Linked DNA regions of Homo sapiens: region 1 is linked to region 2. The links come from fine-mapping of genetic effects on gene expression. A gene starts in region 2. The other region holds a variant in brackets. All regions are shown on one strand. Distances are between the middles of the regions.

Region 1 (16,722 bases), 31 kb before region 2:
GTGACAGTGCAAGACTCCAGCTCAAAAAATAAATAAATAAATAAAACCTCAATTTAAAATATATTTGAAAAATTTTTAGATTTTCAGACTCCATCTCTAGTAAAATCAACTGTTGCACCAGGGTCTCAGAAAAAGAAATGACATTTTCAAATTTTAAACAAGGATACTCTGTGTGTGTGTGTGTGTGTGTGTGTGTGCATGTGTGCATGCATAGTATAGACTGGTTTGGAACACTTCTGAAACCTATTAGTTCCCTTCTAAGAAAAATATTTGCTAAATGCATAAAACAAGATACAAAGTATTATAATGGAAATAAATTACATTGAAATGCAGCTATTAAAATATCAAAATACATATTTTAAAGTTTGGTAAAGTAATATATGAGCTTTTCATTAACTCATTAAATACTAGTGAGCAGAAGATCTAATAACAATAATAATTACCAAGTAGCAATGAGCATAAACGTATTTTGAGGTTGTGTACAATAGCTATAATGTGAGCTGAAAAGTCACAGTACTGTTCCTGCTACTCACGTTTGCTTATTACTTTCACAATTGGAGGAAAGGCCGTATTTCAGTTAAGAGGTTAGTGAAAATAAAGTTGTAATTCTTCCCAACCAAGTTCATGGGCTTTTTGTATTCTATCCTTATCATTACAACACTAAGAAAGCCTAGAAGTCAAACAAGTTTGTTATAGGTGCTCAATTAATTAATCAAATAATTACTCTTTCTTGTAATCAGGCTACAAAACTACATTTCCAAAAGCGAAAAGACCACTGAATGCTTTTTTTCCTTATCTAATAAAGGTTTTCACTGAAAATTCATCTCAGTTCATTGTGTGAGTGAAAGCAGTCAAATAAAATGTAGTATAGACACTGAATGTATTGAATGAAAACAAAGTGGGTGCTTTGTAGGATTTTTCTAAAAACCAAACTGAGGAGTCTTGGAAACACAGACATCACATTTTATCTTAAGCATTATATCTCTTTATCCTTATCACTAATATTTTAAAGCCAAATTATATTTTTGCACAGTTTTTCTTCATTTGCTTTTTCTTATTTTAATTTTACAGTGTAATGTATTGACTGTTTACACTTTCTTTTTCGAAACATTGAATGAAATCCAATAAGCCAGGACACCACATATGTACATGCCCAGCAGGGCCCCTCAGCTGCAGCAGCATCACTTCCTGGAACAGACTACAAGTGGCAAATGAGTGGTAATTAAACACAGCTGCTGCCCAAGAGGTAAGGTAGAAGGATAGATCATTAGAACCTAAAGGGACTGGAGAAGCCATTTTGTCTAACCCTTCACTTTGCATATGAGGAATCAGACACAATGAATAGTCAGGAGACTTGCTTTGGGCCAAGGGTGACCCTGGAGAAGCATGAGTGATGTCCGATAGTTAATGTAACACTCTTCTTACCACTTCACAAGGCAAGTCCTGTTCCTGAATCTGCTTCTATCCAAGCATAGCTATTGAGACAAGGGATTACAGTCAACTAGAAATACATCTTATTTATAGATTTTTGCTTCCAAATATGCCAAGTTAGAAGACTTACATGGTTGATCCCATCTCTAGAACAGAGGCCTTAAAAGAATATTAAAAGATCAAGAATTTGTTTTGAATACTTTTCAAAGTCTGATTTATTAGCTATGTTATTCTAACCAATGAAAATCCAGTAAAACCATCCCTAATTTTATCTTAATTTTTTAAATGGACTTTTTTTCTGATTATAAAATGAATCATATATGTTAATTATAACAAAGACAAATGAAGAAGAAAATAAGCAGCCACATCCCAAGATGTAATACTGGTAATATTTTAGCACAATTTTCTAGGTATGTACATATGTATGAATACAGAGCTATATACACATATTATATGTTAGTATAATATTGCATATAAAATTTTATATTCTGTCTTTTCTCCTAGTATTATACCATGAGAATTTTCCCCACTGAATTAAAATTATTTCCAAAACATCATTAATGTGAAAGTCTGTGTCTGGGCATTATTAAAGCAATAAAGTTTAAAGACATTACAATACATAAAGTTATTTCATATAATTTCTGATCACTGGATTTTTAGGCTATCACTGGACCATGTAACTACTGCATTAAATTTCTGTAAGTCAAAAATATTAAAAATGTTTATGAGATAGCCTTTAGATAGATTTAAATGCAAATCTAAAATTACTGGAGGAATATGTATAATATTCCAGGAAATCAGAGAAATGAAAACTCAGAGATACCACCTACCACTATTAAACGCAGAAGTTTCAAAAAGGTATTATATCAACAGATTTTGACAGGGCTCTGTAAAGTCACGATGGAACACAGTGCTCGTACAAGGAAGTAGCAACTGGTGCAAACATTTAGTGCCTGGCGCATCGCAGGAGTACAATAAATATTTGTTGTATGAACAAATGGAAATTAATTTGTGAATACGTATGAAGACATCTTAATATAGTTATACTCCTTAACTGACAGTCTTATTTAAGGGAATATATACAATATATATACTTAGGTAGTCACTGCAATATTCTTAAAAGACAAAGTTTGGTCACAACCAAATGCCTAAGATTCATATAATCGTTAAGTAAATGATGCAGGGTCTATAGAGCCATGAACACTTAATTTTCACATTAATTTAAGAACTACACTAAAATCATAAGTGTGTTGCGTATAATTCTTAGCTTAAAATGATTGAAATATTTTAAATACTGGCATATTTAATCTCTTGGTATAAGATTGTATTTAATTCCTTTAACGAAATACAAGTTGAGCATCCCTAATCCAAACATCTGAAATTAGAAATACTCCAAAGTCTGAAACTTTGAGTCCTGATGTTATGCCACAAGTGGAAATTCCACCCACAAGTACTTAACACACATTTTGTTTCATGCGCAAAATTATTTAAAATATTGTATAAATTTATCTTCAGGCTGTGCATATAAGGTGTATGTGAAACATAAATGAGTTTCATGTTTAGACTTGACTCCCATCCCCAAGATATATCATTTTGTATATACAAATATTTCCAATACCCCGGAAATTCAAAATCTGAAACACTTCTGGTCCCATGCACTTTGGAAAAGGGATACTCAACCTGCAACTGTTAATTTTAAAATTGAAGAAAACCACCGTGTTTGAAAAAAACCCTGAGAAGGCCGGGCAGGGTGGCTCATGCCTGTAATCCCAGCACTTTGGGAGGCCAAGGCGGGCGGATCACAAGGTCAGGGGATCAGGACCACTGGCTAACATGGTGAAGCCCTGCGTCTACCAAAAATACAAAAAATTAGCCAGGTATGGTGGTGGGCGCCTGTAGTCCCAGCTACTAGGGAGGCTGAGGCAGGAGAATGGCGTGAACCCGGGAGGCAGAGCTTGCAGTGAGTGGAGATCGTGCCACTGCACTCCAGCCTGGGCGACAGAGCAAGACTCCGTCTCAAAAACAAAAACAAAAAAACAAAAAACAAGTAAAACCCTGAGAAGCCCAGATGAATAGATGAAAGAACTATTAATATTGTCTTCCTTCCAAAATACATTCTTACGGTCAATTTCAGAAGTGTCACTCATTTGTTTCACCTCATATACTATAGAAGATAGGCCCAGGGCTCCTTTGATAGTGACACCAACGGTAAGAGAAAGTCATGACTTTCTGTTTTCCCAGTTCCATCACTTAGATAACCCTGTTGTTTCCTCTTACTAATTGTAGCTAGGCTCACTATTGAAACATGTGTTGAATCTCTTTCCCCTTCTTCCCCACCCTGCTGCCTTACACACACACACACACCACACAGACACATACGAGTTGGAGTGGTAACCCTTTAACAAACAACAGGAGTCACAATACCTTTATAAGTTCTGAGGGTTCACTTCCTTCTTCCACGACAATTAGTTCAGACCTTCCTTTCCTTTCATTGTACCGAATGCCAGTAGCTACCTGGTTTGCCTTCAGACGTTCATATTTGTTGCACGAGGAACCACACCACTGATAAATTTCCTAAAAGAAAGAGACAGATCTGTTGACCCTAAGAATATGAGGAAGACATTCAGCCTCAGTGTAATACTTGTGATTAATTAGGAAAGAAAAAGGAAAATTAAATGACCTATTGTTGAGGTATATACATAATTGTTACACTTCATTCTGCATCCTGCTGCTTTCAGTTAGCATTACAAAGTAAGCAGTTTTTAAGCATGGAAAATATAAATATATATATCACCATTCTCTGTGTATATAATCTATAAATTACAATTTATAAAAGTAAACATATGGATTAAATTTGAAATAATAAATATACCACACTTCAGAAAAGTAGTAAAGAATCTGTAAAAATATGATACTCTTGATGATCATAAAATGGATATAACATTTTTGTAAAACTATTCATGTTTTTAAATTGACAAATACATGTTGCATGTATTTATTGTGTATAACATGATGTTTTGATATATGTATACATTGTGGAATGGCTGAATCAAGATAATTAATATATGTAAAGCAATTTAACAATTCTTATCAAGAGCCATAAAAAGAGTGATATTGTCCCAGTAATATCACTATCTGGCATTTACTTTAATAAATTATTCATAAAAGGAGAAAAAAACCACACATATAAGGGTTTTCGTTGCTATGTAATTATATTGGTGAGGCCTTGGAAAGGCATTAATTGTTCAAGAATAGGATAATAGTTATATAAATTATGATATATAGGGAAAATTTGATACTTAACTGTTAAAATTAAACTTTAACATCGAAACATGAAAAAGTCGAAACAGAATAACAGTGTGACATATAGTAGAGATTATATTAGCTACCATTTAGATTAAACTACTATATATTTTAGATTGTAGATTTTGGTATAGTGTCCAGAAGGTATAAGGATACAAACGTAAAATAATAATGAAAAATTACCTCCTCCATTAACATTGTTTACCAAAAGAAAGAAAGAGAAGTTGAATAATACCCAGACCTGGAGTGGCTGTGGGAGTGGGCATTATCACCCACTATTTGGGTGGTATAAACTGACACAGGTTTTTTAAGGGTGGTTTAGCATCATTATAAAAAAATTAAGGTCAGGCATGGTGGCTCATGCCTGTAATTCCAGCACTTTGAGAGGCCGAGGCTTGCGGATCGTGGGTCAGGAGATTGAGAATATCCTGGCTAACACAGTGAAACCCCGTCTCTACTAAAAATATAAAAAATTAGCCAGGTGTAGTGGCGGGCACCTGTAGTCCCAGCTACTCAGAAGGCTGAGGCAGGAGAATGGCGTGAACCCGGGAGGCAAAGCTTGCAGTGAGCGGAGATCATGCCATTGCACTACAGCCTGGGGGACAGAGCGAGACACTGTCTCAAAAAAAAAAATTAAATGTGCTTTTAATAACAAGAAATTCCATTTATAGGAATCTATACTACAGAAATATTCGAACATGGGATATAAAAACAAAAGAAACTGTTGCGGGAAGTCAGGGACCCCAAACGGAGGGACTGGCTGGAGCCACAGCAGAGGAACATAAATGTGAAGATTTCATGGACATTTATCACTTCCCAAATAATGCTCTTATAATTTCTTATGCCTGCCTTACTTTAATCTCTTAATCCTATTACCTTCGTAAGCTGAAGATGTACGTCACCTCAGGACCACTATAATTGTGTTAACTGTACAAATTGATTGTAAAACACATGTGTTTGAACAATATGAAATCAGTGCACCTTGAAAAAGAACAGAATAACACTGATTTTTAGGGAACAAGGGAAGACAACCATAAGGTCTGACTGCCTGCAGGGTCGGGCAAAAAGAACCATATTTTTCTTCCTGCAGAGAGTCTATAAATGGACGTGCAAGTAGGAGAGATATCGCTAAATTCTTTTCCTAGCAAGGAATATTAATATTAAGACCCTAGGAAAGGAATTGCATTCCTTGGGGGAGATCTATAAACGGCCGCTCTGGGAGTGTCTGTCTTATGCGGTTGAAATAAGGACTGAAATATGCCCTGGTCTCCTGGAGTACCCTCAGGCTTACTAGGATTGGGCAATTCCAGCCTGGTAAATTTTTGGTCAGACCAGTTCTCTGCTCTCGAACCCTGTTTTCTGTTGTTTAAGATGTTTATCAAGATAATACGTGCACAGCTGAACATAGACCCTTATCAGTAGTTCTGTTTTGCCTTTTGTCCTGTTTCCTCAGAAGCATGTGATCTTTGTTCTCCTTTTTGCCCTTTGAAGCATGTGATCTTTGTGACCTACTCCCTGTTCTTGCACCCCCTCCCCTTTTGAAATCCTTAATAAAACTTGCTGGCTTTAAGGCTCAGGTGGGCATCATGGTCCTACCAATATGTGATGTCACCCCTGGAGGCCCAGTTGTAAAATTCCTCTCTTTGTACTCTTTCTCTTTATTTCTCAGCCAGCTGATGCTTATGGAAAATAGAAAGAACCTATGTTGAAACATTGGGAGCGGGTTCCGCCGATATCTGGCTCCCAACCTGGGGCTTAAACCCAGGACCCTGAGATTAAGAATCTCATGTTCTACCGACTTCCCCCAATAAGAAACAAAACAAATGCCCATCAATAAGAGGATGGCTACATAAATGTCATTGCATGAGTCCTGTCCACTCCTCTTCAGTAGTTAAAAATTAAGAAAAATGTTTAAATACTGATGTAGAAAATTAGTGAAGGTATATCATCAAGAATACAATAAAGACATAGAATAATATAATTACATTTAAGTAGAAACAAAAACACAAGCTCTGGCTCTGTGTTTGCACAAAAAAATGATAAACAGTTTTAAGAGATTCAGAGGGCATGCATATGCAGAAAGAAAGCCTTCAATGTTTACTGTATCTAAGTCAGTGATTTTTTTTTGTTTGTTTTTATGTCACATACATTACTCACTGCTTATTATGCTGGGGATACAGAGATAATTAAGAAAAAACTAGCAAGGAGAGGTGGACTGGTAGAAAAATTGGCTAATAATACATTTGCACTGTGCTTGGTTTTCACAACACTCCCACACACGTTTCATCTAGTCAACCATGTAGAGTTGTGGTTAAGTGTGAGGGAAATGGACCTAGGCTGCCACTTTCTGGGTATTTGATAGTGTGTTTGCAATTTTTCAAAAGAGTAAATAAATTAGAAATAGCAAAATAAAACATCCAGAGAAATGGATTCTTCTCTGATTAAATTTCCAGCCCAGAGTCATTTCTTCACTCAAAAAATGGTTTACTGAGTGACTAAAATGGGGCAGCCTCTCCTGTAGGTACTGGAAGCACCATTCTGAACAAAGTAGGCTTGCAATAGTCTCTCTGACCCCCGCTTAACATTCCTGATGACCTAATCCACGGTCCTCTTTAAGAATAAAATACACATTTTAGGAATGCAAAACTTTATAAGAAATAAAATCAAAAGGACTACGTCTAGCAATCTCCTTCTCTCAAGAATCGAATGCAGTTATTTAGTATGGTCAAAGGGTGTTTCTTTCCTATTTCTAAAAGAATAGTGCACTTCTATTGCTTCTTTTTAACCTCTTTTCTACATCTGGGCATTGGAATATGAGGCATACATGTGGAGGTCATTTGAATACCATGACAAAGTTAGCAGTTACAAAGAGTAAAAATAAAGGGCTCCCAGTGATAAGTCAACTCTTAGCCACTGAGCACTAAAATCAGATAATAGAGTAGCAAGGTAATTTTTAAAAATACAGAGATGTGAGCCCTATCCTTAGGAAATCTCAGGTGTGTTCTGGGCAGCTGTGTTTATTAAAAGCTCCTCAGGTGATTCTAGCATTCAACCAGTGTGTGCCAAGTGTGATGTACTCTGAGCACACCACACTTGTGCACAACAGGGAATCTGTAACATCTAATTATCCAGTGCAACTCAGTAGACTTTTCTGCTGAGCCCAAACTAATGTTTTTGTTTTGAAAACATTTTACTTATACTTGACTCATGACAGAAAAACATTGACCCTATAAATCAGAATATTTTTTCCTACACGTATCTTTGTTTTTGTTTTAAATTTTTAATTTTAATAGATTTCTGGGGAGCAGGTGGCATTTATTTAGATGAATAAGTTCTTTAGTGGTGATTTCTGAGATTTTGGTGCTCCCATCACCCGAGCAGTTTACACTGTACCCAATGTGCAGTCTTTTATTCCTCACCATCCCTCACCCTTTCCCCTGAGTCCCCAATGTCAATGTATTATTCTTATGCCTTTGCATTCTTATATCTTAGCTCCCACATATAAGTGAGAACATATGATGTTTGGTTTTCTATTCCTGAGTTACTTCACTTAGAATAATAGTCTCCAATTCTATCCAAGGTGCATGCGAATGCCATTATTTCGTTCCTCTTTATGGCTGAGTAGACCTAAATCTAAGACCTGAAACCATAAAGATTCTAGAAGATAACATTGGAAAAACCTTTCTAGACATTGGCTTAAGCAAAGACTTCATGACCAAGAACCCAAAAGCAAATGCAACAAAAACAAAGGTAAATAGATAGGACTTAACTAAACTAAAAAGCTTCTTCACAGCAAAAGAAAGAATCAAGAGTTAACAGACAACCCACAGAATGGGAGAAAATATTAGCAAACTATGCATTTGACAAAGGACTAATATCAAGAATCTACAAAGAACTCAAAAACACATCAGCAAGAAACAATCCCATCAAAAAGTGGGCTAAGGACATGAACAGACAGTTCTGAGAAGAAGATACATAAATGGCCAACAAACATGAAAAGATGCTCAACTTCACTAATCATCAGAGAAATGCAAATCAAAATCACAATGCGATACCACCTCACTCCTGCAAGAATGGCCATGATGAAAAAATAAAAAAAAAACAGATGTTGGTGTGGGTGTGGTGAAAGGGAACACTTTTATACTGTTGCTGGGAATGTAAACTACTAACGACCACTATGGAAAACAGTGTGGAGATTCCTTAATGAACTAAAAGTAGATCTACTGTTTGATCCAGCAAACCCACTAATAGGTATCTATCCAGAAGAAACGAAGTCATTATATAAAAAAGATACTTGCACACACGTGTATAGCAGCACAATCTACAATTGCAAGAATATGGGACCAGCCCAAATGCCCATCCATGAGTGGATAAAGAAAATGTGATACACACACACACACACACACACACACACTCACCATGAAATACAAAGCAGTGTTTTGCTAAAATTCCTCTTCCTATCTTATTCCATGATATTTTGCAAGTGATTATTTTCTCTGCAAGTCTGAGAATACAGACTTCTAATAATTATATTTTACATTAAAGTGAAAGATCAAAAGTAGATCAGAATTTAAAAGTCAAGTTTTCTTTTTACCTCAAAGGTGACTAAATTACTAAGCAAAGTGGTTACAGAAAACTTCTTACTCAGCATGAAAATGAATGACCTGTGTTCTCTTTTTTATTTTCACCTTATTTTATGCCACTATTTACATACGAGTGATATATTTTCCTATTTAGTAGACTTACTTTTCAATGGTTGATATAAAAAATTTAATAAAATAATAACTTTAATTGTAAATGGCTAAAAGTCAGAATGCTTGACAAGTCATTATTAATTAAAACACTGTTTTTTTTTCTTTCTCTCTCTCTTTTTTTTTGAGACAGAGTCTGGCTTTGTCACCTAGGCTGGAGTGCAGTGATGCAGTCTTGGCTCGCTGCAGCTTCTGCCTCCAGGTTCAAGAAATCCTCCTGCCTCAGCCTTCTGAGTAGGTAGGACTACAGCTATGTGCCACCACGCCTAGCGAACTTTTTTTGTTTTTTTGTTTTTTGTTTTTTGTAGACATGGGGTTTTACCATGTTGCCCAAGCTGGTCTCGATGTCCTGGGTTCAAGCGATCTGCCTGCCTTGGCCTCCCAAAGTGCTGGGGTTACAGGCATGAGCCACTGTGCCAGGCCGATAACACTGTTTTTATTCAATCTAATTAAATGTTCATTCAGTGGTGGCAGCAGTACATTAAAACTTGCTTTAAAAACACAATTTTAGTATTTCATCAAATTTGAAAATGTATATTCCACCATGTGTGGATAGTGTGTTTAGGACATCTCATTTTAACAGAGCTCTACTGTGCTGAAGTAAGTGTGTGTAGTTTTATTAATAAACTGTGCGGCCCAACACTTACTCTATTCAGAGGTAGTTAGTTATGACTACTTCACCACTCTGGCAGAAGGAAACTTTGTATTCATTTGGCACCATGCTTGAAAAAAACTCTGTTCTTAATTCACCTTACTCTGTTTCCACCAGGGAGTAGGCTTAAAAAATAAATTCCTTCATAAAGTTAAAAAAAGTCTGAATAAATGTGATAGGTAAATACCTATTACTACAACAGAAAGTTTTCACTATAATCTAAGTTATTTTATGTATAATGCTTTAACAGAATTTAGTTTAAAAACCATTCATTGACTTGATTTAAGTATGCTAGACACTGAAAATTGTAAAGCAAACAGTTTCAGGGGCAACTATTTCACCATCTAAGATCTTAAGGCATTTAACAACTCAACACTAAATATCATATTTCTCTAGGGAAGCAATGTTTAAAAAAGCCCTGTAAATATGAAATTATCCATTTATAAATAATTTGGAATGAAATCCACTTAAATTCTGGCAGAAAGCTGATGTACATATTGTATATGAACATCCTCTAGCAGAAGTTTGTGAAACTATAATTAACTCTTAATATACAAACTATTAAAGAAAAACAAAATTATTCTGCACAATTGGAAAAGGAAGAAATGAGACTATAAATACAATCTGTTACTGGCAGTTAGTCTGGTCCACTAGTTACAAGAAATAAGAGCAAGCAAGTTATATTTATAGAAACAACCACATTTGGGGAGGGGAGTCCTATTATTGGTCTTGAAAATCAGAGGTTTCTAAAATTTCTTT[A/G]AACTATGTGTTGAGTTAATAAGTGCAGCCAGACATCATTTGAGGACAGAAAATAAGGGCAAAAGTAAAACAATGCTCAATGGTGCCCTTGAGGAAAAGCAAGATTTCAGAGGCTGTGTTTAAAGGAGCACCCAAAACAGCCTATGCGATGTTGACTCAACATGTGCAAGGAATTCAGCATAGGCTTGCTGCTCTTTGGTCCTTTTCTAAGTTATTATTCTAAATACATCTAAAATCTGATTAAAGGAGAACGTGAGGCCAGACTTCTTCCTCTTCCTGGCATCTATTGGCTTTGTCTTTCCTGTGTTTAGCTTTCCCTTAGATCTAGTTACCCAAATATAGAAATTCATTAAGATGTATCTTTAGCCTAGAGGTTCTCTAAGTATAGTTTAAAAACAATGATTTGTGAGATAACTCCACGAACCTTTTTTATTTTAAAAGTTTAAAATATGACATCTCGTTTTTGAATAAACAAATGTTTCTTTATATCTATTTTGTTGTCTCCTCAAAGCCAGCTCAACTCAATATCCTTCAGTTACGTATGTATTGAAAGATATTGTGTGTGTTTTTCAAACTACCTCTGAATGAAGGACACAAGATGAATGGAGTGGTGTGCAGGGCCACTGAAGGCTTGGTGACCAGAAAGGAAGCAACTACATTTGAATTAGGGCAGATCAGTGGTGATAGAGAGAAGAGAAATAAATATTTAGAAGGTCTAAGCCTATAGGATTGGTCAATAATGCCATTTGGATGTGCAGTAGAGGGACAGGGAAAAGGAAAATGACTTGGACAATTCTAGCTTGGTTGCTGGTAGTGATGCCACTCATCAGGACCAGATGAACAGTTTTGGGAGGGATCTTTGCGTAGCACCAGTGAGCACAGGTGAAATTATATTCTCTTACTACTCAAAGTGTTTGCCAAACCAAAAAAAAAAAAGCTTACAGTCATACTTTAACAAAAAGCATTTCTGCCAGCCACCTAAGTTGGTGACTCAACTGCTCAATCAACATCAAGAGTTACTGCTTCTTCATGCGTATTGTTACAGGTAGTTACGCAGGCATGAGTGGGGCAGGAGAGGGCCCTCCCCCAACCACTAGGAATGTCAGTTGATGGTTCAGCAATGATCACATTGCCTCTCTAAAAGTGATAAATTGGCAGCTGGCACCAGAAAGAGGCCATTTCCTGAAGGTTCACACCTGTTGCACTAAAGTGAATGCAGACATCAGGGAGGCCATTTCCTGATGGTCCACACCTATTGCACTTAATTAAACGCAGACGTCAGGGAGAAGCAACTTCTTGGGGATGTGCAAGATGAGACAACATGGTGGAGTATGACCTTCTGGGGACACGCCACTGGAAAAAGGAAGAAAGACTCAGGTTGGCATGTGTACGACTTCCTAGACACACTGCATATTCTCACCTCCCAAGGGTAAGGAGGGCACTGCACATGAAGGCAGCCCACCCTAAGGGAAGAATCATGGGAAAGGAATCTATAAAATCCTAGGATCAAAGTAAACACCGCGCTTGACCTTGGTACCTGCTTGGGTCTCTTCCAAGCATACGTTCCTTTCTTTTCCTTCCTGTTCTAAGCTCTTTAAAAATAAACTTCCACTCCTGCTCTGAAACTTGTCTTGGTCTCTTTGTCTGCCTTATGCCCGTCAGTCGAATTCTTTCTTCTGAGGAGGTAAGAATTGAGGTTGCTGCAGACCCATATGGATTTGCCACTGGTAATTTGGATACCTTCTACTGGTAACAATACGACCCTGAATTGTCCAGCATCTTTAGACATTTTCTTGAAGTGATTTACAACATTCAGTGTACCTTATGTTATGGTATCCTGGAGGGAAGGAGTCTTAAGAAGTCCAAACACCAAATTCCAAAACTTTAAAATCAGAATCTTCAGGGGTCAAGTCACAGTTACCAGTACTTTAAAAAACTTTTCCAAATGATTCTAATGTGAAGCTATGGCTGAATATTAAAGTACAAATCGTAACATCTTAAGAGTTGTCTTTCCTAGTGCCTGCTCCTCTCCCCTCAACCATTGCCCCTATCCAGCAAGAAGCAGCCAGATGACAACAGTGCCCCTCTTATATTACCTATTAAAAGGCTGGAATGTTAGGAACAATCTGCCCCAGGACCCCTCCCCCCACCCCAATGCAACAGACTCTTACCCCAAATACTCTGCAGCTGCATTCCTGGATCCTTATCTAGGCCTACAGCAAGGTCACCAGACTTGCTTACAGCCCTACGGGCAGCATGGGGGAGGTCACGAGAAACGTGGATAAACCTAAGTTACGCCCTCTTGTAAATTCCTATATTGAAACCTGGTCACAAGATGATATGTGGTAAAGTTAACTCACAAACAACCCCAGGGTCTCTCTGCCCCATATAAACCCGTCATTCTGTAAGCTCAGCGCTGCCTCCTCTGACTGTGGTGGAGCAGCTCAGCAGGATAATAAGCTTACTCGCCTGACCTTGGGTCTCTCTCTCATCCTTTCTCTTGGCTAACCTTCATTTTGGTGCCAAAACCCAGGAAGGGGATAGGCTCTGGCTGGGCGTCCTTAGAGGATTCTCTCTCTCTCTCTCCTATCATCCCTTACCCAGCCAACCTCCCCTTCCCGAACCTGCTAAAGACCCTAAGGATCTCCCAAAATTCTCCCATTGTTGGCCACCTCATCCACCATCAAAGCCTCTGAGAGGGGTGAGTAAGAGAGACTTTTGCCTATTACCTGGAACCCTTGACCATCTCTTCACTCCCAAAAGACCCAGCGCTGGGCCAAGGGCTTCCTCTGGCCTCCAGGCCTCTGGTTCCTCTGTTTCCTGGACGCCTGACTCCGCAGCTACCTCCTCTATTCCATACAAGGCCTGCAAGACAGGCGCCGCCCTCTCTCGTCTTTGTCGTCTGTGGTCCCTTCTTCCTCTACCCTCACCTCCTCCATTCACTATGGGAGCCTCTCAGTCTACCCCTCCCAAGACCACCCCCCTTGGGTGTCTCCTCCGCAATCGCAAGGCTCTCGGCCTCCGTTCAGGGATCCGTTCTAAGAGGCTTATCTTTTACTGCAATACTGCATGGCCTCAATACCAATTGGACAATGGCTCCCAATGGCCCGAAAATGGCACTTTCGATTTCAATATACTTAGAGACTTAGACAACTTTTGCCATCGCAATGAGAAATGGTCTGAGATTCCTTATATTCAGGCTTTCTTCATTCTCCGTAACCACCCTTCTCTCTGCCACTCCTGCTCTACTTTCCAAATCCTACTCACCAGCTCAAAACCTGACTCATCTCCCGTCACCCCACCCACAGACCCAGCCGATGACTCCTCTTCCTTTGACCCCGTGGATTTTCTCCCTCCTCGACAGCATCATGATCCTCCACCAGAGCATCATGATCCTCCACCGTATGTCCCTGCTCCGGCTCTACCCCTCTCCCCCACTCTCTCCAACCAACCCACTTCTGACTCTGAGTCCTCTCTGCCTCCTCCCCTCACCCGCTCTCGGGCCCAATGTGCTCAGCAACCAGCTCCCTTGCTTCCTCTCCGGGAAGTAGCGGGAGTTGAGGGGATCGTCCATGTCCACGTCCCTTTCTCCTTCTACGATCTCTTACAGATTGAAGAACGTCTCGGGTCCTTCTCCTCCGATCCTGATACTTACATCAAAGAATTTAAATATCTTACTCAATCTTATGAACTCACTTGGCATGATCTCTACTTTATCCTCTCTTCTACCCTCCTTCCAGAAGAGAAGGAAAGAGTGTGGCTCGCAGCACAGGCATATGCCGATGACCTTCATCAGCAGGATCCTACTAAGCCCGTAGGAGCTGCTGCTGTTCCCTGGGAAGAGCCTTCCTGGGAATACCAACCCACAGACCCTGGCCAAGTGTACTGTAGCCATATGATTACTTGCCTCATTGCAGGCCTTAACAAAGCTGCCCATAGGCTGTAAATTTTGAAAAACTTAAAGACATTTCCCAAAAGGCAGATGAAAATCCTGCCCAATCTCTTTCCCGCCTTACAGAAGCTCTCCAAAAATATACCCGCATCGACCCTGCCTCCTGAGAAGGAACTATTGTTCTTTCTTTAAAAAATTTTATTTATTTTTTAATTATTATTATACTTTAAGTTTTAGGGTACATGTGCACAATGTGCAGGTTTGTTACATATGTAGGAACTATTGTTCTTAATACCCGTTTTATTTCCCAATCTGCCCCTGACATCCGGCACAAACTTAAAAAGGCTGAAGATGGCTCTCAAACCCCACAACAAGACCTCCTTAACCTGGCTTTCAAAGTCTTTAATAACAGGGACGAGCAAAATAAATTAGATAAAGCCCAAAGAGATCGTGCTAAATACCAGCTTCCAGCAGTGGCTATCTGTCAGTCTAGCCATAGTACCCAAGGGCACAAAAGACCTGATAGCAGCAAACCTCCTGGGCCTTGTTTTAAGTGCGGCAAAGAAGGCCACTGGACGGGGCCATGTCCCCACCCATGAGTGCCGAAGAGCCCTTGCCTAGTCTGCCAGCAGATGGGCACTGGAAGTCTGACTGTCCTCTCAACAGATGGGCAGACAAGCATGCTCCTCAGAGCCACCATCCCTTCAACAAGACAAAAAGTGAAGAATCACTTGCACTCCCATAGCTCCTTGGCCTAGCCACTGAAGACTGATGAGGCCAGGGCCCCTGGGCCCCGGCTCCCGGCCCCCACTGCCATCACTGCATCGGAGCCCAGGGTAACTCTACTAGTAGCAGGTAAGCTGATCTCTTTTTTAATTGATAGTGGGGCCACCTACTCAGCTTTGCCTGAGTTCTCAGGACCCACTCATCCCTCTCAAGTCTCAGTTGTGGGGGTTGACGGACTCATCTCTTGTCCGCTTGCCACCAGACCTCTTACTTGTTCCCTGTTTGATGCCATTTTCTCACACTCTTTCCTTATCATGCCTCATTGCCCCACCCCCATTCTAGGCTGAGACCTTTTAGCCAAAGTCAAAGCTTCTATCACCTTTTCTTGCCCCCTTCAACCAGAGTCCCCTCCTGCTCCTCTCCGCTAGTCCGGCCCCTGACCCCTTTCCCCAGTACCCACTTCCTGCCTCTCTCATTAACCCTTCCGTAGCTGCTCACCATGACCCCATCAGAATCCAGTTAAAAGACTCTTCCAAATTTCCCAATGTTCCTCAATACCCCATCTCTCTAACCCACCAAAAGGGCCTACAGCCCATCGTAAACAAGCTCTGCTCATGCAGTCTTCTTAGACCAACACACTCTCCATATAACACCCCTATCCTCCCTGTTAAAAAGTCTGATGGCTCATACCGACTCGTTCACAACCTCCGAGCCATCAGTCAAGCTGTCCTCCCTATTCATCCCATAGTCCATAACCCCTATCCACTTCTCTCTCTCGTCGCTACCAACACCACCCTCTACACTGCAATTGACCTGAAGGATGCCTTCTTTACCATTTCCCTACACCCTGATTCCCAAAACCTATTTGCTTTCACCTGGACTGACCCTGACACCCTCCAGTCACAACAACTCACATGGACTGTCCTCCCTCAGGGCTTCAGGGATAGCCCTCATTTCTTTGGACAAGCTCTAGCCCGAAACCTTACTTCCTTAAACCTGTCTCCCAGTCATCTTCAATATGTGGACGACCTTCTTCTTTGCAGCCCCTCTCTAAAAGACTCTCAAACTCACACGGCCACTGCTCTCTTAAACTTTCTCGCTATCAAAGGGTATAGGGTCTCCCCCTCCAAGGCCCAACTCTCCATCTCCATGATGACTTACTTAGGAATTCAACTTTCCCCTGGGGCCCAGGCTATGACTCCAGCCAG
Region 2 (16,722 bases):
TTTCTGCTTTTTCCAATTCCTTTAAAAATTTTAAAAAGAAACACTGTTGTGTGAAGTTGCTCAAGAAGATAAAACAATCTATTCCAATGAGATTTAAGTAAGCATTAATTTGGTAAGGTCAATAAGATCAGACTATGAAAACATTTGACAAGTGGTTTAGCCTTTATTAGGATAAATCTTTGATTTTATGATATGTCAATATGTTAACTGATGTTTGTGAGAAATATGAGCATCAGAGCCATAATTAAATAAGTGGTTTTTACAATGGGAAAATGAATATAATTTAATTTTACCCCTATTTTTTGGTCTTTTTCCCTACTTCACTATCTGACTGGTTCTGTTTGAATGAAATAATGATCTCTGGAGGAAAGGAAGAGCAAAGGAAGCAGCACGCTAACATTTATTAAGTGTTAATGTACTTGGTATTGTTCCAGGTATTTTACATACAACATACATTTAATTTTCACAATTGTAATACACATCACATCCAGGTAACTTCACTAAGGTCAAAACAATTCCTAAGAACCAGTGTCTGTAGTGTACATAAAGGATACAGTACGGACAGTCAGGAGGGGCACTCACATTTTATGGAAAACACTTCAAACTCTTTACTACATCCAAGCTGTAATAAAAATCTTAAATGACTCTAGAAATAATAATAGCCAACATTATACATTTATACTACCCCTATGGGCCAGACACTATGCCAATGTTTTACATGGATGATCTCATTTAATCTTCAAGCAACCTCATAAAGCAGAACCTATTTTCTACTAGATTGGAACAGAGAAAATGGAGGCTTAGAGAGGCTGGGTAACTTTTCTGAGGTCATAAAGCAACTTTTGGGAGAAAAAGACCAGATGTAGGTTTGTGTGACTCTGAAGCACAGGTTCTTAAAAACTCCAGTACACTTGTGGGTATTTTTTTGTACTCAGGCTCTCATTAGCGGTACAATTTTATAGTGACAAGGTATGTTAATTTCTTCCATAGATAACTGATGCATAAAAGCTTAGAAGCTGTAATAATTTAATAGTTCACATGAACAACCCTAACTGACAGTATTCACCAAAGTTGAAGAAGGCAAATCAGTCAGTTGTATTAAAGAAAGAATCAGATTTCCTTACAATTTCCCTCTTACTCTCAAATGAGACTCATATACCAAGTATCTTCTGAGGGGAAACAACAACAACAACAAAAAAAAACAACTCAGTAGCTAGAAGATTACTTGACGTGATAACAATTTTGTGAACTCGCTGTGGTCAAAGTTAAGTATTTGACACACCGGCAATTTTGCAATCTGAAAGGACTCTGGTGTCATTCTTCTGCCGATTTGGGATCCGAACCCTAACTGAGAATACCATAAAGATGTAGATGTAGATTTTTATGATGCCTTAAGAGAGATGCTTTAAGAGATAACTTGGAATCAAGGTTAACATCAAAGGTGTTAAAGATGATGTATTTGACATAAACGTCCTTACCTGACTACAGGTTGAAACCTGAATCTCTTTAGGTAGATGTAAATGGACAGGCATGAAGTTAATGAATGAACTGAAAGTAAGTTAATTAAATTATCCTATCATTTGCTGATGCTTATGTAATGTGGTTGGCCAGGGAATATCTGTATGAATAAAACAGGATGCCTGAATGAGGTTGACGGTCTTGATGAAGCCAATGTCAGCCTTTGGATGCGAAAATTAGAATCAAATCCAGTTGTAGCATGATGGAATTCCAGAAAGTATTTAGAAACTTATGAACTTTGTGTATAAAGTCTGCTTAAGAATCAGTTTAGTTTTCCCCTACGAATCTGCTTATGATTTCCATTTGTTGTTTCCCTACACTGATTTTACCGGTGTCTTTTATGTTCTGTTATACTATGCTGTGCCGTGTTATTTTATATTATGTTAGACTTGTGTACATCCTATGAATTTCTATAAGTATTTTGTGGATGTAATGATTTTATAGATAAAAAGAGAGATTTAAAACTAGGTTAATCCAACAGCCATTCATGATAAAATAAAATAAGTCAAATTAGGAATAGAGAGGAACACCTTCCAACGATAATTAGAGTCAACAAAAAACACAGAGCTAGCAATGCTGAACAGTAAAAGACTAAATGTTTTTCCCATAAAATCCAGAAAATGGGTGTGCACTCACACCACTCTTATTCAACATAGTACAGCAAGTTCTAACCACTGCAATAAAGTAAGAAAAAGAAAAAAAAGGCATACAAATTGAATATGAAGAAATAAAAAGGTCTCTATTTAGAGACAACAATATTGTTTACATAGTGAACTCTAAGAGACCTATCCAAAAAAAAAAAAGAAAACTCTCCTAGAAATAAAAAGTACATTGAGCAAATTAGCAGGATACAAGATTCATCAGTAATACAAAAAATCAGTCACATTTCTATATAGAAACAATGAACATGCTGAAACTGAAATTAAAGGCGCAATGCTATTGACAATCACTCCAAAGAAACTGAAATACTCAGGCATATAGTTTAAAAACATGTACAGGATCTGTATGCTGAAAATTACAAAATGGCATTCAAAATATCAAGGAAGACCTAAGTAAATGTAAACGCTTAGTGTTCATGGATTTTAAGACTCCACATAATAATGATGTCAATCCTTCACAAATTGATCTATAGGCCTAATGTTATTCTTACCAAAATCACAGTAAGGTTTATTATAGACATATACAGGCTTATTGCAAAATTTATATAGTGAGGCGCAGGCCCTGGAATAGCTAAAATAATCTTGACAAACAAGCATAAAGTGGGGGGAATCACTCTACCTGATACTAAGGTTTACTACATAGCTAACGTGATTAAAACAGATTGGTACTATTGAAGGATAGACACAGATCAATAGACCCAATTTCCCCCAGTAGTGGCAACTTTGTAAAATTACAGTATAGCTTAACATATTAATGTATAGTACAGTATAGCACTGAACACCACAACCAGGATATTGGCATTGATATAATCCACCTATTTTATTCGTATTTTCTCAGTTTTACTTGTACTCGTGTGTGTGTGCATTTAGTTCTATAAAATTTTATCACATGTGTAAATTCATACATCTGCTATCACAATCAAGATGCTGTATAGTTCCACCAAAAACATCCTTCAAGTTGCCCTTTTATAATACACTCTTCTCCTGCCCACATCATCCCCTCTTCACCCTATCTGTAACCAACGGCAATGCCAAATCTAAAATTTTGTCATTTCAAAAATTTTATATAAATGGGATCATACAGTATAAAGCCTCTTAGGGTTTTTCACTCAGCATGATTCCCTGGAGCTTCATCCAAGTTGTTGTATGTATCAATAGTTTGTTCCTTTTTATTGCTGAGTAGTATTAGTTGGTACAGATGTACAACTTGTTTAACCAGTCACCTGTTGAAAAGCATCTGGGCTGATTCTAGTGTTTGTTTATTCAAATAAAACTGCTGTGGACATTCAGGTACAGGTTTTCATGTGAATACAAAACTTCATTTTTCTGGAATAAATACCTATGAATGCAATTGCTGACTCATATGGTAGTAGTATATTTGGTTTTGTAAGAAACTACTAAACTCTTTTCCAGAGTGCTGTACCATTGCATGTACCCACCCCCATGCTCCAGCAATGTAAATGATCCAGTTTCTAGCCAGTCCTTCGTATAAGTTCTTTGTATCGTATATTGTAATCCAATCCTTTGGATTCCCAGGGCATTGCACAAGGCCTGGTATAGCCCACTTATAACATAAATGTATACTGCTTTAAAATATATTTGTGTGAAGTTTAAAACTGGCAAAGAGAAAGAGTGAGGATAAGTGTTTGTACCTTAGGTTAGGGATGTGACAGGGAGCAGTTTTACTATCTAGACCTACCCATTGATTTGGTGCTATAAGGAACTACAAACAGAGGTGAATGGATGCATTTAAACTGCTAGGTGCAAAGCTGAAATGTTTTTAAAGAAGGGCTAATGCAATAACATTTAAGTTCTTTGCAATAAATTTTTACTTTCATTACATTTAAGCATATGATGTTAATACATTCAAGCATGTAATGTTAATACAATAAAATAATCTGAGATATGCCAAGTGTTATGGAAACACTGAGGGAGAGACCAAGAAAGACGACTCTCCTGCTCTGTTCTCTCTTGTTCTAGGTCCAACTTCTTCCTGTTTCCCCTTTTTGCCTCCCATTTGGCCTGTTTCTTCATTTCTATGCTATGCACCTTTTTTCATCTCAGTTTAACTTTAGTTTCTCTTTCTTCCGGCTGATTTCCTTTAACCAAATGTTCTTTTCCCCTGGAAGTTCAGCTCTCTCTCCTGTGACTTTCTCTCAATCTGTCTCTCTGATGAATCCTCATGGATTCATCCTAATTTAGGTCTTAGACTACACTATTTTGGATGAAATTCTGTTTTCTTAGGGAACTGAAGTAGGAAGAGCTGTTGGGCAATCCCATCTGAAAGTCCTGTTGACTATTTTACTTGAAGCTTTTTTTCTCTCCATAATTCTCTCTTGACACAAGAACACTTCCAAGTACTCTCATTTTTTTTTTCTCTAAAGGCTTCTGTTTCCCAATAACCACAGAAACTTTGTGCTTTCACAGTAATTATCACATTCTACCTGTGTTATATCACTTTTTGTCTTTTTGCACCTTTGAGGTGATGAACTTTTAGAGAAGTTTCATTAATTATTCATATCCACAAGTGCCTTGTACAGTACTGGCCATATTGAATAATTACTGAATGAATTTGCTTGTTATTAACATGTTATTGACTTCAGTTTTAGCATGTCTTTAAGATTATAAATGTTTCTGCCCAAACCATTTTCTATTATATTTTTGAAATTTATGGGCATCAAGTGGATAATTAAGTAGATAATTAAGTGAATAAGGTGAATCTGTAAACCCTACAAAATATAGTAGTTAAGAGGACAACTTGGATAAAAATGTATAGAATTAAAGAATTGTGTTCAAATCTCCCTTGCGGTCATCTGACAAAGTCAAACTTAACTGCTGTCTACAGTAAGATATGGCATTATTTCACATTTTAATTTACTCAAATGGCAAATGTGGCATTTCAAACACTTTCATTCATGCTAGATTTAAGTTCTGCATGGAAAGTCCTCTGTAAGGACATCATTATTCTATCTGGCATCATTCATTCTTGAACATGGGTTATAAAAGTTTCAGTCTTTTCTGGCAGAAAATACAAATAGATGACTGTGTATTACAACATTATAATAGGAATAACAGCAATGCATCAAGAAGCCAAAATGTGTTCAGAACTCAGGCTGAGCCTTCTCTGCCTCCTCAAGCTAACACAAATTTTTGACTCCAAATGTTATAATTAAAAGTCTTATCTTCATCTACGTATTTTTCATTTCTCATTTCTCAAATGCCTGTTCCAGGTGTTTGCCAATGTTTAGACAGTCACTACTCAATGTTTTCTATTATTTTGTTTCTTAAAATCTTCAAATGTTGGAAATTACAGTGTTGGCTTTCAGGGACTCAAAAATGTGTAAGTGTGTGTGGTTTTGTGTGTTTTCCTCCTAAGCTCAGGGATAAAACTAAACAAACACGAGTACTGGGCAGGCTAGCTAGTTTTAAAAGAAGGCAAAAAGGCTCAGAGAATCGGCATGTTGTTAGACAGGGTGTGCCCACTGGCACAAGACCTCCTGGGGAGAGGCTGGACATTCAGGATGTTTATGAGTAAAAGTAGAAGGTGGAAAAAGAACACACAAGGCCCAGTGTCCTGACAGCCTGGCACGAACGCAGCTCAAAATAATTACTACTGCTGAAGGAGCCGTTTCTGTTCCATCTTGTGTCCTTGCTAAAATAAATAATAAATAATAACAATAAAGCAGTCTACATAAATATATGAAATACCCATATAGAGCTATTTATTTGTATATAAAATATCTGTATTTTTTTCTTACTTCTATCTGAGGACGCCAGCTTCCGAATGAAGCGGAGTTTTTGTCTACCAGACCCACAAGCAGCATGGTGCGGGTAGAATCCTGTTTTAAAGAAGCCCAGAACAATAATTCCCGCAATCATAGAGAAAATAAGCCAGTGCCCGAAAGCAACAAATAAAAATAATGTGTGAAGAAAAAGAAAAGGACTTCTTCCTAGCGGCGGCAGATGCCCCCAGACTTTATGACTTCCTCTCCATCCCGACAGGGAAAGCAGGACTGAGTTTGTCGGAAGGTGAGCGGGGCTTGGCCAGAGACGGTGTGCGCTGAGGCAGCGGCCCTGGACAAGAGTGGCGTTTGGATACTTGACGGTGAAAGGGGAAGAAGCCAGTCACCAGCTCCAAAGTCCAGGAACTACACCTGGCAAAGGTCAAAGCCTGCGAGGTAAGTCAATTGCGGACAACGCCTGAGCCCCGCGTTTGCAGCCGGCGAGTTGACTTCGGTAGGGAGAAAGTGGCCGGCCCCAAAGGGCAGCCCCGTGGGGGCGCGAGTGGCTAGCTCAGTTTGCGGTCCCCTTTACTCCCACGCCTGCAAATCTCAGACCCCTACGCCCTCCCCTCGCCGGCCTTGGTGCGTCGGGGTCCCGCCGCCCGCCGTCCCTTACCGAGCCAGAAGTGCAGGTGGTAGGTGAAGCCTCGGCTCGTCTTGGCCGTGTGCAGCACCAGGTAGGCATCCCCGACGTAGAAGTCGCCGTGAGCGCTCTGGGGCACGGGCACCAGCTCCAGCTTCTCAATCCTCCAGACCTGCAGCCCCGCCTGCTTGCCCGCCCGGGCGAACTCTTCGTGGTATAGCTCCCGCGCCATGGCTCCTGCACGCGATGCTCCGGGGGACGCGTGATATCGCTGATCTTGGACTAAACCGAGAGCAGCAGGAGGAACCTTATTCGCCGCCACTTTATAGTGTTTGCCATCCGGGGAGGCGGCGCCCTGAAACGGGAGGGGCTAAGTGCCCAGGCGCGAGTTGACAGAGGAGACGATCGCTTCCCACGGGGAGCGCAGCGCTGGCTTCCAAGCTCCCACGCCTTGCCCCAGGCCAGGAGCGGAATCGGCGTCCCAGAAGTCTTGAGATTCAGAGGGAGTTTATAGTAACTCGTGCCAATGCCTCCTCCAAGGAAAGACATTTTCTCTAGCAATAGACGAAGAACATTAACGGTTAAAACTGCTTGGCACTCCTTTGTGCATACCCATCACTACCGTCCTGCATATTTCCCCTTCTCTCGCTAATCCTCTTATTTCTGGATCTCAGTTGTGCCTGGCAGGAGGGGTGAGGTGAGGAAAGAGCGCGCCAGCCCTGCAGAGTTGAGTCAGCGTTTACTCGGGTGGAGCAATACCTGTTCTTTCTGGCCCTCTAGAATAATTCTTAGAACAAGGCTTCCTCTGCTAATAGCAACACCTGCCGTTAGGCAGCAGAGGAGTGTGCCACATTAGCATGCTGGAATAATTTTAATACATCCTTCTTTAAAAAATGGGCTTTTTGAGTAACAAGCATCCTAATGATCAATTCTGTCATTTCATTGGGCAATCTCTGCATTCCTGACGACCAAAGTTTCTGTCTCGATCTTCCAGTTTGAAAATACCATGAAAAACAGCATGTCAGATTTCTTGGACAGGAAGAAAACCTGGAAGAATGGCAGTATTACCCCAGGTGACAGAGCTCTGTAAATCTCAGAGTTCAGGAGCTGTGGTTGAGCTCTCTTAACACCTGCTTCCTTTGGCCAAGAAAGATGAAAACAACAACAAAAACCCAGCAGCCGCCGTCCTGAGATGTTCTCTGCAGGGCTGTTTGTGGCTGTAATTTTATGCTTGGCCGGACTTCTGGGTTACCTGTTACCTAGCTTCAAGGTGATAATTTTCTTTGTTTTACCTACAGGTTTTGCTTTTGCAGCATGGCTAAAACACTATGGAATACAGATGGAAATTTTACTCTTGATTTGGCATTCATTTAACAAGCTGGTATAGCAAAGGATTCTGTTACTGAAAAAGGCAAATCACTCAGGATGTATAGAGTAAGAAAGCTGAATTTCATGCATGTAAAATTGTTTTCATTCAATTTCTCAAATTACATGAATCCCTGGAAGGTCAATAATAATGCAAAATTAGATTTTTTTCCTTAATTAAATTATGTTTTTAATAGGTTATTACATGACCATGGTAAAAAAATTAAAAGTACAAAATGTGTGCAATAAAAAATTATCTCCATTTCACCCTGCCACCCAGTTGCTTTCCCCAAAGGCAATTACGTTACCAGTTTCTTATGTATTTTTCCAGGCACTCAAATTTTGTCAACAAGAATATAGGTAATGTAGTTATTTTAAATTTTTAACAGAAAATGTAACATATAACCTTTTCGAATCCCCCCCCGTGTGTGTGTGTGTGTGTGTGTGTGTGTGTGTGTGTGTGTGTGTGTCTGTGTATCAACACACAGTACTCATAGAGCTACCGGTTTTTACTGACCATATGGTATTCCACTTTATAAACATACTAATTTATTTTGTCTATCTCAGTTCATAGTGTAGGGGCCAAGGGAAAACTTCCCCTCTACCCTCTGAAGTTTCACTGAAAAATCAAGTCACAAAAGGCAGATTAACAGGACAAATGGCATACAAATTTATCAGCGGGCATGGGGGAGAATCACAGAGTGATTGGCCAATATCCCAATGAGGTACAGAGGGTTGTACCTCCTTATTAGAGGAAAGGCAGATGGGTGATGTATGGGTGATTTGGGGGGTTAGAAAATGATTTTTAGGGGAATTCAATGTGTTTGAAGAACATACAGTGGCCTGAGACAAAGTATGTTAAGCCTGCAGAGCTCTCCGTGTGTGTTGACAGACTTCAGTCTTTCTTTCTGCAATATGAGTTCAGTTTGTGGAAAGTCAGGGAAGAGACCAGAGGTAACTGTTTTCTTCTTTGGCAAGTCGAGACTTTAGGCAGATAAGGGAACTTCAGAGAATACCTTCATTCTGTGCTTTGGGAAAGAGAGGATTGGTGAAGGAAGGTCAAAGAAAACTTAAGCCTTCTTCATTTCAGCATGTCAAAGTGTCACATTTTGTGGTATTGGTTTCTGAGCCCCAACACTAGGCATTTAAATTTTGTGTATATTTTGCCAATACAGTGTTACAAATAGCATATTGAACATACTTTATTATGCATTCGCAGTATTATAATTGAGATAAAACCCTGGAAATATAATTGGTTGGGATTAAATAGCTTTTATGTAGTGACGATAATTATGAAACCAATTACTACCACTTACTGATCTTTGACAATAACAGGCTATAGTACACATTACCTTGATTCAATTCCTGCTTTCATCCTTAGTTCTGAGACTTTCAGGAAGTTACTTAACTACACACAGCCAGCCTCATGTTCCTCATCTCTAAAATGGGAAAATAATAATATTTGCCTTATAAGATTATTTGGTTTAAATGAGTCGACACATATAAGGTATTTGTGTCTGTTACACAGAAAACACTCAATAATTAGGAACAATTTTTATGTGGTGGTGAGCTTCCTTTTGCTCCTTTAGATATCTTCTCTATCCTGCACCCTTCCACCTTCCCTTGAGGTTGATCTACAAGAGCTAAATCAAGTGGGCTCTGATGTCCTCTGGCTTGAGGCTTGGTTGGAGACCAGAGGGAGAAAAGAGAGTGAGGCTGGAGTATTTATTTCCTTGGCTCCTTCAGCAAAAAGTCACTGTTCTTTTAAAGGCGAATAACTGTGTCTGACTTTTTGTCTCCTGTTGGGTTATAGCAACTCTCCCCTCACATGTTTTATTCCTTTTGTTTTCTCTGCCTCTGTTCTTTTGTATATAGCTTCCTAAAAATCTCCTGGAATTTTCCTATTTTGCATGCATGCTCTGTTGTAAGTTGAGATCCTGATGGATAAATTTTATTAGCTACATTCTTTTTTTGTCTCCTGACCAAAACAGTGAGAGGTGGATATGAAGCCTCATTTTATTGATGAGGGAACTGAAGCTTTGGAGTTTGCCGTAGGTCAGTCACCCAGCTGATGAGTAGCCAAAGGGAATTCAAGTTCTCTCTCTCATTCAAAAGTACTTGCTCTTCCCAAAAACGTATTCTTTCAATCTAAATTATTTGGCCAGGTGTTTTTCCCTGAAGCATACTTTATAATTTTATTTTCTTCAAGGTTGTATCTAGAGAAGCTTCTGATCTAGTATGTCCCATGCAGCACTAAGAAACTTAGTTTTAACTTTGAGCCATTAGGTCTCAGTTTCCTTATCTGTAGACTGAAATCATGTGTTCTCTTCCTCCTGACGAAAAAAAATATAAGAACTGGTGCTCTAGACTTAAGATAATTTAAAAACCAGAGGTGTCTCAATTTCAGTTTCAATTTCAGTGATCATTTCTTTGTTGAAGAAATAAAAAGAAGCTTTGGCATAGATGAAAGTGAAATTCCCTCTAGGTTAGGCCAGAGCTAGTGTGAGGCAAGTAAGACAGATGCCTAGGATGTAAAAGTTAAAGAGGCACAAAAAACAACAACAAAGTAGCATTCAAGATAAATACTATTTTAAGGTGATATTTTAAAGCTCAAAATTAATGCAAAATATCATGATATAACATTTCAAATAGAGACAGGATTGTTAATAGTGCTGTACAGGCTGAGACAAAGGAAAAGTACTGATCCTTCCACTACTTAAAACTTTGGGCTGGGCGCGGTGGCTCACCTGTAATCCCAGAACTTTGGGAGGCCGAGGTGGGCGGATCACGAGGTCAGGAGACCGAGACCATCCTGATTAACACGATGAAGCCCCGTCTCTACTAAAAATACAAAAAATGAGCTAGTTGTGGTGGCAGGCGCCTGTAGTCCCAGCTACTCGGGAGGCTGAGGCAGGAGAATGGTATGAACCCAGGAGACAGAGCTTGCAGTGAGCCGAGATCACGCCACTGCACTCCAGCCTGGGCGACAGAGCGAGACTCCGTCTCAAAAAAACAAAACAAAACAAAACAAAACAAAACAAACAAAAAAACCACTTTGATAGTTAATAGTTTTGGCATTTTGATATTTAAAAAAGTGCTGCATTGAAATACCATTTTATATACTAAAATACTTGATTTATTTTTTTCTTTTTTTTCGTCCTATTAATTTTGTGCATGAGGCAAGTGCCTCACTCTCCTGACCCTAGTCCTCTCCTGGCTAAGTGAGCTCCAGATCTAAACTTCCAACTCCCTGATAGATATAGCTACCTGATTGGTCCTGCTGAGGTCAGGTTCAACATACTCACAACAATCTTATCGTTTTATCCAAACATACTTCTATTTTTTTCTAATTTCACTAACAGCATCATTTAATTTTGACCTAACACTCTCTATCTCCATATTCAATCAACAACCCAATCCATCCCTAGTAGCCTACTCTCTTGCTCCTCCTCTGATCTTCAGTAGAGACATGCAGTGAAAGTTAAGCGGCCTAACTTAAAATATGGCTTTGACCTAGGTTGAATCCTTGTTCTCCCCCATTTCAGCTCACTGAGCTGGGGCAAGTTACTAAACATTATGTGTCTCAGTTTTCTCATCTGTGGAATGGGGATACTGACAGAAATTTCCTTGTAGAATTGTCATGAGGATTAAATGGATAAATACATATAAACCTGGAAAAGTACCTGGTACATAGGAAGTGGCAGTAAACTCCACTGAGACTAACAAGTGATTAATTCATTTCTCCAAATTCAATCTTCAACGAATAATGTTTCCAGAGTCCAGATAAGGACTGCCCATTTTCTACACAAAAAAATCGTCTCCAAAACCAAGTGCCAGTTTCCTTTCCAGGCCTTTATTTTCTCTTCCTCTCTCATACCCTAGTTTCCTAAAAGTAAATAATTTCCTTCCATTTGTGTTATTGCCCTTCTTCCATATCTGTCTGTTAAAGTTCCTAATTCTTTAAAGTCTGCTTCCTTAGGGTCATGATTCCCCCGGATCCATTAAACTCCAGCATCCTCTGTGCTCCCAGCACTCCAGATCTGCTTACATCATAGCAGCTCCCACACTCTGAAGTGTGTTTTCTCTCTCAAGTTTGAAGGTTCACTTAGAGATTCATGACTCATTATTTGATTCCCTGGCTTTATGGTAATACATGCTGACTAGATATGATTGAATTGTTTGTTTTACATTAAATTACATTTATATTTTCATCAATTTACAAACCTGAGTCCAAGGAGAAACACCCAATGTGAATAAGTCTTTACCAAGAGTCAGGAGGTTTGAGGTTTGGGGCCAATGTGATTGGACTCAAGGTAAGTGTTCTAGAATATTAATACCTAGAGGGGAATGTTGCATATGTTATTCTTCTGAATAAAAAACAATGTCAAATAATATAATTGATGTATTGTGCAATTCACTAAAATGGGTTGGGAAAAATGAATCAGCTTCAAGCGATCTTCATTCCTCAGGGATAGAATCTCAGAGTTGAGAGACATTTTATTTATATCATTGCATCGTGATCCCAGAATTGTTGAAACTAAACATACGAAAGACAGGGACTGCACTTTTTTTTCCCCCAGGAGAGGTAAATGCTTTGAATGTGCTATTTATTTGCTTTCTTTTTGTTATGTAAATAATGAAATAATGTAATTAAAAATACATTTCTTTTAGTGGTAGTCCTGCTAAATTGTAATAACTTAACGTTTGTTTTACCAAATTATTTGAGGGTATAAGCATGGAACCTGGAATCAGGGGACCTGAGCATTGTGAGGATTAAAAGAGATTATGTATGTCAAAGCCCTAAGCACACAATCAACAAAGTCAGTTGATAATCAGCAAGCACCCTTTTTCCCAGTACCTATCAAAGCTTCACTTAGAAGTGAAAATACATTCCAGGGAAGTGTATTTTTATCCTTTTGACTCATTCTAAACAAACTAGAGCTTAAGAAAAAAAAGCACTCTTTTTTTTTTTTTTTTTTTGAGACGGAGTCTCGCTCTGTCACCCAGGCTGGAGTGCAGTGGCGCGATCTCGGCTCACTACAAGCTCCGCCTCCCAGGTTCACGCCATTCTCCTGCCTCAGCCTCCCGAGTAGCTGGGACTACAGGCGCCTGCCACCATGCCCGGCTAATTTTTTGTATTTTTTAGTGGAGACAGGGTTTCACCATGTTAGCCAGGATGGTCTTGATCTCCTGACCTTGTGATTTGCCTGCCTCGGCCTCCCAAAGTGCTGGGATTACAGGTATGAGCCACCGCGCCTGGCCCAAAAAAGCATTCATTTAAAAAAAAGCTTCAATCAGGATTTTGGACCTTCCCTTTCATAAGTCAATTATTTTTAAACTACACATAACACTATAACTATAAAGTAATACTGAGCCATGAACTATCATAGTCCAAGGTTCAGTACTAAAGTGAAGGTTTTATTGCTGTTGAATGTCTGCTGGTGTGATATATGGTCCATTTTTGTAAACCTACTTACTACAGCAGGTCATAGTTGGTTGATTTGACATTTCTTCTGAATACTGTCATGCAGTATTTTATTATGAAAGCAATTTCTAACCCATGTTTGATTATTTACAGAAGACATTATCATTACTTTAGAAGTTTATACATTGAAGAATGCTTATGACCAAAAGAAAGGTTGAGGATGAAAGTTTATGAAAATTTATGATTTAAATGTATTTTTTTCCTTTAAAATTATATTTGTATAAATGGAGATCATATCGTCTAAAATATAATAAAATTGAGGCTAATGGTGTTTGAGCCTGTGTCATCTTTTTTGCTTGATTTTTCTAAATGTCTCTATTTTACTAATAATCACAATTAACAATTTATTCTGTTTTGCTTGCTTATTTGTAGCCCTGGCATTACCACTTTGTGAGAAATAACTTCAGATTTTCAAGGACTAAGTCAACAATACTTGAATGCTAGAACTGTGTAACCATAGAAAATGATGGAAATCAGATATGATCAGATTATCATTTTGTTGTAAAGATACTTACAAAAATAAGGTTAATTAATTCATTTAAACCAAACAGAAGGTTGTTTTTAAAAGTTAAAGCTTGAAGATTATTTTCTGCTAGCCAGAAATAACTTCCTTCAGCCAATTCTCTTTTTATCACAACCTCCCTTTATATGAGTTGAAATTATGCAATTTGACTGTAACTCCTTTTACTCTTGATATCTTGAGGCTTGCTTGAAATCACAGGCTTCTATGGAGTAAGCAAACTGACTGAAAGGATTTCCGAAGATACTTTATTTTACATACTTCAGAGAACAGTGTCTTTTGAGGCTGGCAAAGGGAGCCTCATTAACTCCGTATCTACCCAGTTCCTCTCCTGAAATGACAGCATTTTAAAATAAACAGCTTAACAAGTATTCCCTGGACAGCTGGTACTCACACTTCTAGCTGAGGCCTACTAAAGAAAGATGGAGAGCAATTTGCTTCACCCAGGAAGTCTTAGGGCATTGGGATACTTGGGGCAGTAAACATGAGGGAGAATTCTTTTTGTTTTCCCACCATTTCTTTATCTCAGTACCTACATGGCATTTTTTTCTGATTGCTGTGGTTACACATGTTTACTGAAGACAATTTTGAAAATACCAATTACAAATGAGATTAAAATTATCCCTAATCATACAACCTAGGGATATGCTCTGATAACGTTTTACACAAAATTAAGATCATGATATAATACTGTACATTTCCATTTATAATTTGTTTAGGACTCATACTACACATATCTTTTCTTTGAGTGGTTGGGGTTAAAAGCAGAATTCCCGAAAGTTCCATCCTTCCATTTGGGAAACCCTGACTTGTTAGGCACAGAAATACTCCATGTCATTGTAGCATCACTCAATTGTATAATTTTGACATTTATTTTTATGTGAAAATTATAGAACAATTACACTCATCCATAATCATGTCTTTCTTGCTCGCTCTCTATTTTAACAAGTATTATGTTATTTAAGAAGTTCAGTGCCCTTGGCCCGGCACTGTGGCTCACGCTTGTAATCCCAGCACTTTGGGAGACCAAGGCGGGCAGATCACGGGGTCAGGAGATCGAGATTATCCTGGCCAACACGGTGAAACCCCGTCTCTATTAAAAATACAAAAAATTAGCCGGGCGTGGTGGTGAGCGCCTGTAGTCTCAGCTACTCAGGAGGCTGAGGCAGGAGAGTGGCTTTAACCCGGGAGGCGGAGCTTGCAGTGAGCCAAGATCGCGCCACTGCACTCTAGCCTGGGCGACAGAGCAAGACTCCATCTCAAAAAAAAAAAAAAAAAATAGAAGTCAGTGCCCATCATTGACTCCTAAAATGCCATCTTTTGGAGGTTATATCATTTTAACAATTTGATATCCCTTTCAAATTGCTGAGTTGATAGACATGCCTATGCATTATCTTTCTGTCTGTCTGCCTATCTCTGTTCCTCTATTCAACCATTTCTGTTCCTCCATCCATTTCTCTCTGTATTAGTGGTTAAGAGCACAGGCTCTGGAACTAGCTGTCCTGAGTTCAGTTTCCTGTTCTGCGATTTCTAGCAATGCTGTGGCAAGTTACTTTGCACCTCTATTTTATGATCTCTAAAATGGGAGTACTATGTGATAGGATTGTTATGAAGGTGAAATGAGTTAACACAAATAAAGTTCTTGAAATAGTTCTTACCAGCTAGTAAAATGCTCAGTAAAGGCACATTACAGTTATTCATACATAAACACACATACACATCTACCCACAGGTACTTCAGCCAAACTGGAATGCATATCAGCATCCAGCTACCTTTCATTTAAACAAAATCGTATTAATAGATTATGAACATTCTTTCAGGTAAGTATGTATGGATTTACCTCATTAAAAATAATGGCTTTGCATTCCATTGCATTAAGTAATATGCAATTTCCTTCTTTTGGTACTTTTAGATGCTTTACATGCATAAATTCAAATAATACATTAATAACCTTCCATACATCTTTCTTTGTGTACACGTTACTATTTCTGTAAGACAGATTTCTAAAAGTGGAATTTCTAGGCCAAATGATTTACACTTTTTTTGTTTGTTTGTTTTTTTGTTTTTTTGAGACGGAGTCTTGCTCTGTCACCCAGACTGAGGTGCAGTGGCACTATCTCGGCTCATTGCAACCTCCGCCTCCCAGGTTCAGGCGATTCTCCTGCCTTAGCTTCCTGAATAGCTGGGACTACGGGTGCGTGCCACCAACCCTGGCTTATTTGTGTATTTATTTATGTATTTATTTTGAGACAGAGTCTCGCTCTGTCACCCAGGCTAGAACGCAGTGGCGTGATCTCGGCTCACTGCAAGCTCCGCCTCCCGGGTTAATGCCGTTGTCCTGCCTCAGCCTCCTGAGTAGCTGGGACTACAGGCGCTCGCCACCACGCCCGGCTAATTTTTTATATTTTTAGTAGAGATGGGGCTTCTCCGTGTTAGCCAGGATGGTCTGGATCTCCTGACCTCGTGATCTGCCCACCTCGGCCTCCCAAAGGGCTGGGATTACAGGAGTGAGCCACTGCGCCTGGCCTTGCCTGGCTAATTTTTTGTATTTTTAGTAGAGACTGGGTTTCGCCGGTTTTACTCATTTTTTTTTAAAGGTTTAAGGATATCACCAAATTATATTTTCTAAGTCAGTGGACAAAAATGACCATTTCCCTTATCTTAGTACTAAATTCTAACAATTTTTCATTAAAAATTCATTTCCAGTCTAATGCATGAAAATTATATCTCATTTTCTTAAAGTTGTATTTCTGTGTTATTAGTGAAATTTAGCATTTTTCTATATATTTGTTACTATTTTTATTTCTTCT

Evidence for each region.
Region 1: its variant is fine-mapped to the expression of SCIN in subcutaneous fat (TwinsUK, PIP 0.95).

What each region holds. Positions count from the first base shown.
Region 1 is chr7:12,591,797-12,608,518 of GRCh38, reverse strand. It overlaps SCIN (scinderin), which reads right to left. Exons shown (of 16, transcript NM_001112706.3): 4 at 3,856-4,005. LOC107986768 reads left to right here and starts at 13,312. Exons shown (of 3, transcript XR_007060635.1): 1 at 13,312-13,597. RefSeq lists an enhancer at 11,682-12,881. The variant A/G (reference allele first, on the strand shown) is at 10,897.
Region 2 is chr7:12,560,839-12,577,560 of GRCh38, reverse strand. SCIN (scinderin) reads right to left here and starts at 6,841. Exons shown (of 16, transcript NM_001112706.3): 1 at 6,576-6,841. The coding sequence starts at 6,774. LOC107986768 reads left to right here. Exons shown (of 3, transcript XR_007060635.1): 3 at 6,180-13,668. RefSeq lists an enhancer at 10,273-10,322.